Linked DNA regions of Homo sapiens: region 1 is linked to region 2. The links come from fine-mapping of genetic effects on gene expression. A gene starts in region 2. The other region holds a variant in brackets. All regions are shown on one strand. Distances are from middle to middle. Region 1 holds the start of APOBEC3F (apolipoprotein B mRNA editing enzyme catalytic subunit 3F). Region 2 holds the start of APOBEC3H (apolipoprotein B mRNA editing enzyme catalytic subunit 3H).

Region 1 (5,367 bases), 58 kb before region 2:
AGGTCCTGAGAATGTGTGTGTGCTCAAGGTGGTGTGGGTGCGGCATGACTCCCCAGACCCCTTAGATAGGAATTTGGTTTTATATATTTTAGAGAAGCATCAGCTATCAATCAAACACATTTAAGAAATACAGAAGCTGAGCGTGGTGGCTCACGCCTGTAATCCCAGCATTCTGGGAGACTGAGGCAGATGGATCATGAGGTCGGGAATTCTAGACCAGCCTGGCCAACATGGTGAAACCCCGTCTCTACTAAAAATACAAAAAATTAGCCAGGTGTGGTGCTGGGCACCTGTAATCACAGCTACTCGGGAGACTGAGGCAGGAGAATCACTTGAACCCAGGAGGCAGAGGTTGCAGTGAGCCAAGATCACGCCACTGCACTCCAGTCTGGGCGACACAGCAAGACTCCGTCTCAAAAAAAAGAAAAGAAATACTTCGGATTGCTCCAGAAAGGTCGGACGGCTCAAAGTGAGGGCAGGAGTGCTGGGGGGCTTCCAGGCTACAGGTAAATTTAAACATTTTCTGGTTGACAATTGGTTGAGTTTGTCTAGAGACCTGGCATCCATAGAAAGGAAACGTTCAGGTTAAGATAAAAGATTGTGGAGATCAAGGTTCTTTTGAAGTCTCATAGTGGCTGCCCTTAGAGACAATAGATGACAAATGTTTCCCATTCAGGCCTTTAAAAGGTGCAATTAGTTCATCTGTTTAGGACCGGGAGGGCCTAGAAGAAAAAGATCCAGCTATGTTAATAGAGATTCTTTACAGATACAAATTTTGCCCCACAAAGGACAACTTTGCAGGGCCATTTCAAGATATGGCAAAGAAACATGTTTTGGGGTAAAATATTTTGTCTTTTTACTTTGTCACATAATGTTGTGCCTGAGTCAGATTGGAAAGTAACTCACAATATATAGGGTTAAATAAAACCCATGTGGGCCGGGCGCAGTGGCTCATGTCTGTAATCCCAGCACTTTGAGAGGCCTAGGTGGGTGGATCACCTGAGGTCAGCAGTTCAAGACCAGCCTGGCCAACATGGTGAAACCCTGTCTCTACTAAAAATACAAAAATTATCCAGGTGTGGTGGCGGGCACCTATAATCCCAGCTACTTGGGAGGCTGAGACAGGAGAATCGCTTGAACCCGGGAGGCGAAGGTTGCAGTGAGCCGAGACCACACCATTGCACTCCAGCCTGGGCAAGAAGAGTGAAACTCGGCCTCCATTAAAATACAATAGGAAAAAAAAAAAAAAAAATAGAACCCCTCTGATGAGGATGTACGGGTTGTAAGGCATGACTCCCCAGACCCCTTAGATAGGATTTTGGGCAAGATTAAATAAAAACAAATCAGAGCTTAGTCCAAAGGCCTATGAACTAAAAATAAAGTCTTTAGCCCCCACCGATCCCCCCCAACTTTGGCCCCCAGTGGCCAGGGGTATCTCAGAAAAACCTTAAAACTGAGTTCCCAGCCATGATGGGAGGGGAGGTCAGGCACGCCTCATTATCACCCCGCCCTTTTGCAGTTTAGACACAACTGACCAGCAGTAATGTTAAAACAGAATCATAAGATGGGCAGAACCAGAACAGACTCTTCATGGCAATCAGATACCAAATCACAACCAGGACCTCAGGCCGTGCCAGGCAAGGGTGAGATCACACACCCCACACTTAAACAGTCAACTCTGTTCTGCCTGCCCCAAGGTTTTTTTTTTTTTTTTTTTTTTGCTCTAGCAGCTAAACAAGCACTGCCTCCAGATAAAGATGAAAACAATCACAGCTCACCCAGCGCCCGGACGCGGAGCAACAGAGCCCCTGCTCCACAGCCCTAATTCCAGGTTTCCCTGGACAAGAGACTGATTTCAGTAACTTTCTCCAGATCGGAAGACCACGGACCACGGACTAGTTCTGAATGGTTTACAGACCTGGCAAATTTTGGTGCCTTCATGTCCTGAAAGGACCTTTTGACATACAGGCTTAATTGTGGTACATTTAAATGTTGTCTCCACCGCAATGTGAGGACGGATTATACGGTTGCTTTTTTTTTTTTTAGATTTTTGTTTGTTTGTTTTTTGTTTTGAGATGGAGTCTCACTCTGTCTCCCAGGCTGGAGGGCAGTGGCGCGATCTCGGCCCACTGCAACCTCTGCCTTCTGGGTTCAACTGATTCTCCTGCCTCAGCCTCCCGAGTAGCTGGGATTTCAGGCACGTGCCACCACACCCGGCTAATTTTTGTAGTTTTAGTAGAGACCAGGTCTCACCATGTTGGCCAGGTTGGTCTCGAACTCCTCACTGTCATGCGTGTCTGTATAGAAAACCACCTAAACAGGCTTTGTGTAAGCAATAACGCCATTTATTCACTTGGGTGCAAGTGGGCTGAGTCTGAAAAGAGAGTCAGCGAAGGGAGATAAGAGAGGGGCAGCTTTATAGGACTTGGGTAGGTGGTGGAAAGTTACAGTCGAAGGTGGTCATCTGTTGTCAGCAGGGGAGGGGGTCACCAGGTGCATGGTGGGAGACCATGAGACCCATTGTCCAGAAGAAGAATGTCATAAGGTCGATTGATCAGTTAGGGTAGGGCAGGAACAAGTCCTAATGGTGGAATGTCTTAAGGTTGGTTAATCAGTTAAGGGAGAAACTGGCTGTTTCACTTCTTTTGTGTTTTTTTGGCTGCTCCAGACTTCTTGGCTGCTGCAGGCCATCTGGATGTATATGTGCAGTTCACAGGGGTCACAATGGCTTAGCTCCGGCTCAGAGGCCTGACACTGACCTCAGATGATCCACCTGCCTCGGCCTCCCAAAATGCTGGGATTACAGGCGTGAGCCACTGTGCCTGCCTGGGATCATATGTTACACGCATGTTTGTTCAATAAGCATGGAGTGCAGCCACCCACATGAATATTCATAGCTCCTCCTATAGCCTGTTGAATATGTATGTTTAGCCAACCCCTTCAGCATAAAGCTCCTGCCCCAACCCCTCCTGCTTCTAAATGTCTGTCTCTGGTGTTTCCCAGAGGCTGCTCTTCCCAGGCTGCGGGATGG[C/T]TACCTTGCTGCCTGTCACCCTTAACAAGAAATAAAATCTCCTTTCCAAATTTATACATTGTGGCCAGGCGCGGTGGCTCACACCTGTAATCCCGGCACTTTGGTACGCCAAGGCGGGCGGATCTCCTCAGATCGGGAGTTCGAGATCAGCTGACCAACATGGAGAAACCCTGTCTCTACTAAAAATACAAAAATTAGCCAGGCATAGTGGTGGGCGGCTGTAAGCCTGACCAACATGGAGAAACACTGTCTCTACTAAGAATACAAAAATTAGCCTAGGCGTAGGGGTGGGTGCCTGTAATCGCAGTTACATGGGAGGCTGAGGCAGGAGAATCTTTTGAACCTGGGAGGCAAAGGTTGCGGTGAGCTGAGATTACGCCACTGTACTCCAGCCTGGGTAACAGAGCAAGTCTCCGTCTCAAAACAAACAAACAAACAAAAAAACACAAAAAAACAAAAGCAAACAAAAAAACCAAATGCATCCCTTGTGTAATTTTTAGGTCACCGCGCCATGGGAACACGCTACCAGGGGAAGGGAGCTGTGAGACGCGCAGGGAGGCTCCAGACAGGCTGGCCTGGGACACCAGCCACTGCTCTTCCATGACATGGGGACAAGAGGAGGCGAGAGCTCAGCCCACCAGGGAGGAACTCCGGGCAGGAGATGGGGAAGAAGGAGAAGCAGGAAGGAAAGAGCTCAGTGTGGGGGCGCGCATGGCATCCCGGTGGGACATCTGAGGCCCACACCCACCTGCTGTCCCTCCCTCCCACGGTGGCCTCCGAGGGTGAAGGCCTGGGGAGAGGCAGACACCTGGCCCTTTACTCTCCCTCCCTGTCCCCATGGCCGCTGGGTGGGGGCCGTCTCTGGGATGATCCCCGAGGGCAGGATCCGGGAGTCCCTGCGGAGGCATCAGCCTGTCTGTCTTGATGGTGGAGAGGAGGCTCCAGCTGGGCGGGACCACCAGGGGAGGGGCTTGTGCTCTGCTGGCTCAGCCTGGTGTGGACCCACCTCGCGGGCGCTGGCTGCAATGACTTTCTCTTTCCCTTTGCAATTGCCTTGGGTCCTGCCGCACAGAGCGGCCTGTCTTTATCAGAGGTCCCTCTGCCAGGGGGAGGGCCCCAGAGAAAACCAGAAAGAGGGTGAGAGACTGAGGAAGATAAAGCGTCCCAGGGCCTCCTACACCAGCGCCTGAGCAGGAAGGGGGAGGGGCCATGACTACGAGGCCCTGGGAGGTCACTTTAGGGAGGGCTGTCCTGAAACCTGGAGCCTGGAGCAGAAAGTGAAACCCTGGTGCTCCAGACAAAGATCTTAGTCGGGACTAGCCGGCCAAGGATGAAGCCTCACTTCAGGTACCGCTGCCCGCTCTACCCGCTGGGCCCCTCTGCTGCCCCTTCCTGCCTGGTGGCTCTGCTGGGCGTCAGCCCTGGCCTCCCCCTGCCCCAGCCCCAGCCCTGGGCTCCCTCCCCTCTGGCTCCCCTGCCCCCGCCACTCCCAGCCAGGCTCTTTTTCCTGCTCTGTGGTTGCCCCACTGCTGCTTCTGAATAGGCCGCTTCCCCACCTGCCCCAGCCCAGGTGCCCTGCTGAGACTCTCCCCCGCCACCGAAAGTCATGGCAGGGCTGGTGCTCCCGGCCCTGGGAGGGTGCTCCCTCTGTGTTCTTTCCGCCATTCCTGAACTCTGGAACTGGGAGAATTGAACCAAAGGATGATTAGAGCAATGTGGAATTTTGTTCACAGTGCTTTGATGGATTTTCTGTAACATTTACTTTGCTTAAATAGCAAGTCTTAGGAGAGGGTGTGGGGAGGGAATGGTCTCTGAAGCACAAGATAAATCGTATCTTCCAAGGATGTCTCCACTGTGGGCAGAGGAGGATGCAGATGACCCCAAACACACGCTCCTCCTCCACTATCAGCATTCACTGTTTATAAATGACACGAGTAACATGGAATATAGTGGCCGGGTGCGGTGGCTCACACCTGTCATCCCAGCACTTTGGTAGGCTGAGGTGGGTGGATTGCCTGAGGTCGGGAGTTCGAGACCATCCTGATCAACATGGATAAACCCTGTCTCTACTAAAAATACAAAATTAGCCGGGTGTGGTGGCGGGCGCCTATAATCCAGCTACTCCACAGGCTGAGACAGGAGAATCGCTTGAACCCAGGAGGCGGAGGTTGCAGTGAGCCGAGATCGCCCCATCGCACTCCAGCCTGGGCAACAAGAGCCAAATTTCGTCTCAAAAGAAAAAAAAACAAAAACAAAAAACATGGAATATATGGGAAAAAAACTCAATGATCAGGAGAAATGCTATTATTTTAAAATTTAGTAAGAAGAGAGTCTGG
Region 2 (5,367 bases):
TAAATTTTGTCACACTGTCAGCTTGCTTGCATGTAGACATGGCTTAGGTTTTACATTGGTAAGACTCCAATATAAGGAGAGTTTAGGCCAGGCACAGTGGATGAGGTCATTGGGGTAGTTCCTAATCCAATAAATCTGGTGTTCTTATAAAGGGGAGATTTAGGCCGGGCGTGGTGGCTCACACCTGTAATCCCAACACTTTGGGAGGCTGAGGTGGGCAGATCAGGAGTCAGAAGTTTGAAACCAGCCTGGCCAATATGATGAAATCCCCTCTCTACTAAAAATACAGAAATTAGCTGGGTGTGGCACTGCACACCTGTGAACCCAGCTACTCGGGAGTCTGAGGCAGGAGAATTTCTTAAACCTGGGAGGCAGAGGTTGAAGTGAGCCGAGATCGCACCATTGCACCACATCCTGGGTGACAGAGCGAGACTCCATCTCAAAAAAAAAAAAAAGAAGCTTAAAACAAAGACGGGACGTTCTTCCTTCTGCCTTCTGAGGCCTCCCTAGTCTGTAGTGCCGGAGCTTCTAATAAATGATCACAACTTCACCGCACCCTGTGGCTCAGCTTGAGTTCTTTCCTGTGAGAGATCCAAGAACCCATTCTTGGGGTCTGGATCGGGTCCCCCTTTGCAGCAACGAACACAGGCCAGAGTGGCCAGCCTAACCTCCCGTCCTCCTGGAGATAACACCTAAGCACAGGCCCGTCCTAGACACCACAGGGTCTCTGCTGCAGGAATTCACTGGAGGAGTAGTGGGAATGCTGCCTGTGGGAAGGACCAGGAAAGGGTTCCGCCTTCCTTTCCATCCTCCCTGCTTCTCAGCCTGGGAGACTCAGCTCTGTGATTAACCAGCACTACAGTGTGCAGATCTGATGTCTCTCCTGGCAGGACCCCGCTCATTCTGGAATCTTCCATGGACTGTAGCCCCAACATTTAGGACAGATAGGGTGGAGGGGATGCCATTCCCAGGAACCTTCTAAATTCTCACCCAAGCTCCTGTGACCCCAGGGGCCATGCAGGGTCTAGAGGGCTGTCAGGGTGTGCAGGGCGGGAGGATATGGAGGGACAAGCTGGGCAAGGTTCAATGGGACTCCTTGGTGTGGAACCTAGACTCCGCAGTGACTGCCCCTAGTCCTCGCCCTTGGGATTCAACTTTCCTAGGGGTTCTTTGGTTTTTCTTTTTCTTTTCTTTTAGACAGAGTCCCGTTCTTGTCGACCAGGCTAGAGTGCAGTGGCACAATCTCGGCTCGCTGCAACCTCTGCCTCCCAGGTTCGAATGATTCCCCTGCTTCAGACTCCTGAGTAGCTGGGATTACAGATGCCCGCCACCACGCCTGGCTAATTTTTGTATTTTTAGTAGAGACGAGGTTTCACCGTGTTGCCCAGGCTGGTCTCGAACTCCTGACCTCAGGTCATCAGCCTGCCTGAGCCTCCCGAAGTGCTGGGATTACAGGCGTGAGCCACAGCACCTGGCCTGGCTCTTTGGTGTTTATGATCTGAAGGGTGTTGGTTGATATGCATGAAGACGAGGACATGGGTTCCAGAATGCAAATGTGAAGTCCAGGTCCTTCATCTCTGACCTGGGAGGCCCTTTAGGAGCAGTAAGTCCCCTCCCTCGTGTCTCCTCTCCTGCTCCTTTCCATGGAGCAATGAAGAACCTCAAAGTAGCTAGCTGTGGGGGAGAAGGGACACAGGAAGTCCTGGCCAGCACTCCAGCTCTGCTGTTGATTTGCTGTGTGACGTGGGGACAGTATCTTAGCCTCTCTGTGCTTGGGACCTCCTCTGACTGTCAGGATCACTGCCCTCCCCTCCCAGTGCTATCTGGGGACTGGGCTAGATAATGGGCACTGGATCCGCTGGAGATGCAGTCCTGAGCCTGACCCCAGTGCTCATTTCACATCAGGCTCAGGGTCCTGCCAGGAGGCTGAATGCCAAAGGTCAGTGGGGTGGTGGGGAGGGGGCTGCAGCCTGCCCTGTCCACCAGGGGAGTGGCATCTGGTCTATGGTGTCAGCCCTGGTCTGGATCCCTGCTCCTTTCTGTGGCTTCTATTCCTTTCATTTATTTTAGTTTAGTTTAGTTTTTGAGACGGAGTTTTGTTCTTATTGCCCAGGCTGGAGTGCGGTTGGCCAGGTTGATTTTGAACTCCTGACTTCAGGCAATCCACCTGCCTCAGCCTCCCAAAGTGCTGGGATAACAGGCACCGTGACCAGCCATCAATTCCTTTCTTTTTTCTTTCTTTTTTATTTTTATTTATTTATTTATTTTTTGAGACAGGGTCTCGTTCTGTTGCCAGGGTGGAGTGCAGTGGTGCGACGTCGGCTCACTGCAACCTCTGCCTCCAAGGTTCAAGCAATTTCCCTGCCTCAGCCTCCCAAGCAGCTGGAACTACAGGCGCAGGCCACCAAACCTGGCTAATTTTTTGTATTTTAGCAGAGACGGGGTTTCACCATGTTGGCCAGGATGGTCTTCATCTCCTTACCTTGTAATTTGCCCACCTCAGCCTCCCAAAGTGTTCGGATTACAGGTGTGAGCCACCGCATCTGGCCTTTGTTCTTTTGTAAACTATACCTGGGGAGGGAGTTGAGTCTGGCTGTACCTGGAGAGGGAATTGGGGGTGGGAGGATGGGAGGTGAGCCACCTCCATCAGACTTCCCCTGCCAAGCCCGAGGAAATAGAGAAAGAAAGGAGCCTGAGGGATCTGAAGCACCCCAGGGCCCTCCCACTCCAGTCCCACAAAAGGAAGAGGGTGGAGCCACCCTCATCAAGCAGTGACTTTTTGTGACTTTTGGGAGAGCTGACCTTTTGTGACTTTTGGGAGAGCTGCCAAAAGTGAAACTTAGTGCCTCAGACAAGCAGGGGCAAGTCTGCTAAGGAAGCTGTGGCCAGAAGCACAGATCAGGTACTGCCGCCCACTCTGTCCACTGGGCCCTCTGCTGCCACTTCCTGCCTGGCAGCCCTTCTGTGCCTCAGCCCTGGCCTCCCGCTGCCCCAGCCCCAGCCCTGGGCTCCTTCTCCTCTGGCTCCCCTGCCATCCCCACTCCCACCCAGGCTCTTTGCCCTGCTGTGTGGTCACCCCACTGCTGCTTCTGAACGGGCCGCCTCCCCGGCCTGCACCAGCCCAAGACCCCTGCTGAGACTCTCCCCTAAGAGTCATGGCTGGGCTAGTGCTCCCCACCTTGGGAGGGTGCTCTCTCTGTGTGCTTCCTGCCATTCCTGGGCTCTGGAACTGGGAGAACTGAACTAAAGGATGATGGGAGCAATCTGGAATTTTGTTCACAGTGCTTTGATGAACTTTGTGTAAGATTACTTTGTTTCAATACAAAGTCTTAGGAGAGGGTGTGGGGAGGCAATGATCTCTGAAGCACAAGGCAAATCATCTCTTCCAAGGATGTCTCCACTGTGGGCAGAGGAGGATGCAGATGACCCTGAACACACACTCCTCCTCCATGATCAGTATTCACATTCACCGTTTATAATGACACCAGTAACACGGAATATACGGAAAAACTCAATGATCAGGAGAAATGCTTTTATTTTAAAATTTAGGAAGAAGAGAGCCTGGTTCCCAAAGGCTCCCTCCTGCAGGGCCCGTGATGCAGAGGCTGGCAGGGCTGGCCAGGAAAGTGGCCCAGCTCCATGGCCTGGGCAGGTTACCCCACCTCTCTGCACCTCTGGCCCCTCCTCTGTAAGATGAGAATGGCCCCTGCAGGCCTAGGGCAGCCTCACGTGAGCTCAGATCCTCTCAGCACTTAGAAGAGTGGCCTGGGCCTGGGGATGGAAGTGCTACCCTGATTTTTTGTTTCGTTTTGTTTTTTTGAGAAGGGGTGTCTCAGTCTGTTGCCCAGGCTGGAGCGCAATCTCGGCTCACTACAAGCTCCACCTCCTGGGTTCACGCCATTTTCCTGCCTGGCCAGGCAAAATGGCTCATGCCTGTAATCCCAACACTTTGGGAAGCTGAGAGGGGAGGATCATCACTAAAGGCCAGGAGTTCCAAACCAGCCTGGGCAACACAGGGAGACCCCCTTATCTACTAAAACTAAAAAAATAAAATAAAATAACATGAATAGGTAAAATGCCAGGAATTAATTGAACTGAAATATTAAGAGCTCTTATTTTGAAGGGGAGAATTTTATTCACTTTTCTTATTTTTAATGGGTTAGAGGATGGGTGGCAGAAATACTGGGAGGATGGGAGATCCATCCCTGGAAAGACCAGAGCTAGGGCCCTGAGCTGGGAGAGGTCACCCCGGCCCTGCTGCCCCTGCCAGCATCTCCTTCTCTTCTCCTCTCCCTGGTCTTCCTGCTTGGGAAAGCTGCAGAAATTCTCAGGACTTGGAGGCTTGAAATGCTCAGGGGTTTTCCAGAAAGCAGAATAGAAAGTAGATGGGCAACCATCAATCAGACAGGCCAAAGAAAAGGAGCTCAGGCCCTCGGGGAGACAGGAGGTGAGCGCATGGGTCACAATCCTGGCGGGGCGCGGTGGCTCACGCCTATAATCCCAGCACTTTGGGAGGCCGAGGTGGGTGGATCACCTGAGGTCAAAGGAGTTCAAGACCAGCCTGGCCAACATGGTAAAACTCCATCTCTACAAAAATACAAAAATTAGCCGGGCATGAAGGAGGGCGCTTGTAATTCCAGCTACTTGGGAGGCTGAGGCAGGAGAATTGCTTGAACCCGGGAGAATCACTTGAACCTGGTAGGTGGAGCTTGCAGTGAGCTGAGATTGGACCACTGCACTCCAGCCTGGGCAACAGAGCAAGACTCTCTCTCAAAAACAAAAAAAAAGCAAAATCCAAAATTGAATCCTCTGTAGAATGTAATCACAATTCAGGAGAGCAAAATCTATGTAATTTCTTCAGCCAAAAATGTGTCACAACACTCCCTTGGTGACAACAGCTTTTCTGTTCACTCAACTGTGTTCTGTGCAGACAAACTTGTCAAACACACACCTGAGCAAAGAGCACAGTGCTGGAGGAAGCCCCAGTTTCCACCCCATCACTCCCCAAGGGGAAGGGTTCTGGTATTGGACATGTAGGGGTCGAGAGGCCTGTGGACCTCAAGGAGGGGGTGTCCAACTGCAGCTGGAAAGAGGGATCTGGGACTCAGGCCAGAGGCGTGTGAGCAGCTCAGAGCAGCTCTGAGCCCAGGGGAGCCAGAAAGGCACACCCACAGTTCTCAGGCAGGGGATCCCCACCCAACCCAGGAAGAATAGTGACGAGGTCGGGGCATCCCCATGCAAAGAGCCTCAGCTGTGGGCAGCAGCCGGTGCCCTCCCAGGTGGGAGGATGGGAGATAGCAGACAAGGTGGGAGGGAGCACTCCCCTCCTCCTGTCCTCCTGCCAGCCCTTCCTTCCCCTGCTCCACT

Evidence for each region. PIP is the estimated chance that this variant, and not a neighbour inherited with it, causes the effect. A credible set is the group of variants that fine-mapping cannot tell apart.
Region 1: its variant is the best candidate, but not a certain one, in a credible set for the expression of APOBEC3H in blood mononuclear cells (TOPMed, PIP 0.52).

The regions. Positions count from the first base shown.
Region 1 is chr22:39,036,600-39,041,966 of GRCh38, forward strand. It overlaps APOBEC3F (apolipoprotein B mRNA editing enzyme catalytic subunit 3F), which reads left to right and starts at 4,265. Exons shown (of 7, transcript NM_145298.6): 1 at 4,265-4,378. The coding sequence starts at 4,362. RefSeq lists enhancers at 179-1,069, 4,075-4,134, 5,187-5,367. The variant C/T (reference allele first, on the strand shown) is at 3,032.
Region 2 is chr22:39,094,442-39,099,808 of GRCh38, forward strand. It overlaps APOBEC3H (apolipoprotein B mRNA editing enzyme catalytic subunit 3H), which reads left to right and starts at 2,803. Exons shown (of 5, transcript NM_181773.5): 1 at 2,803-2,902. RefSeq lists enhancers at 1,925-3,124, 2,447-3,334, 2,665-3,004, 3,335-4,221.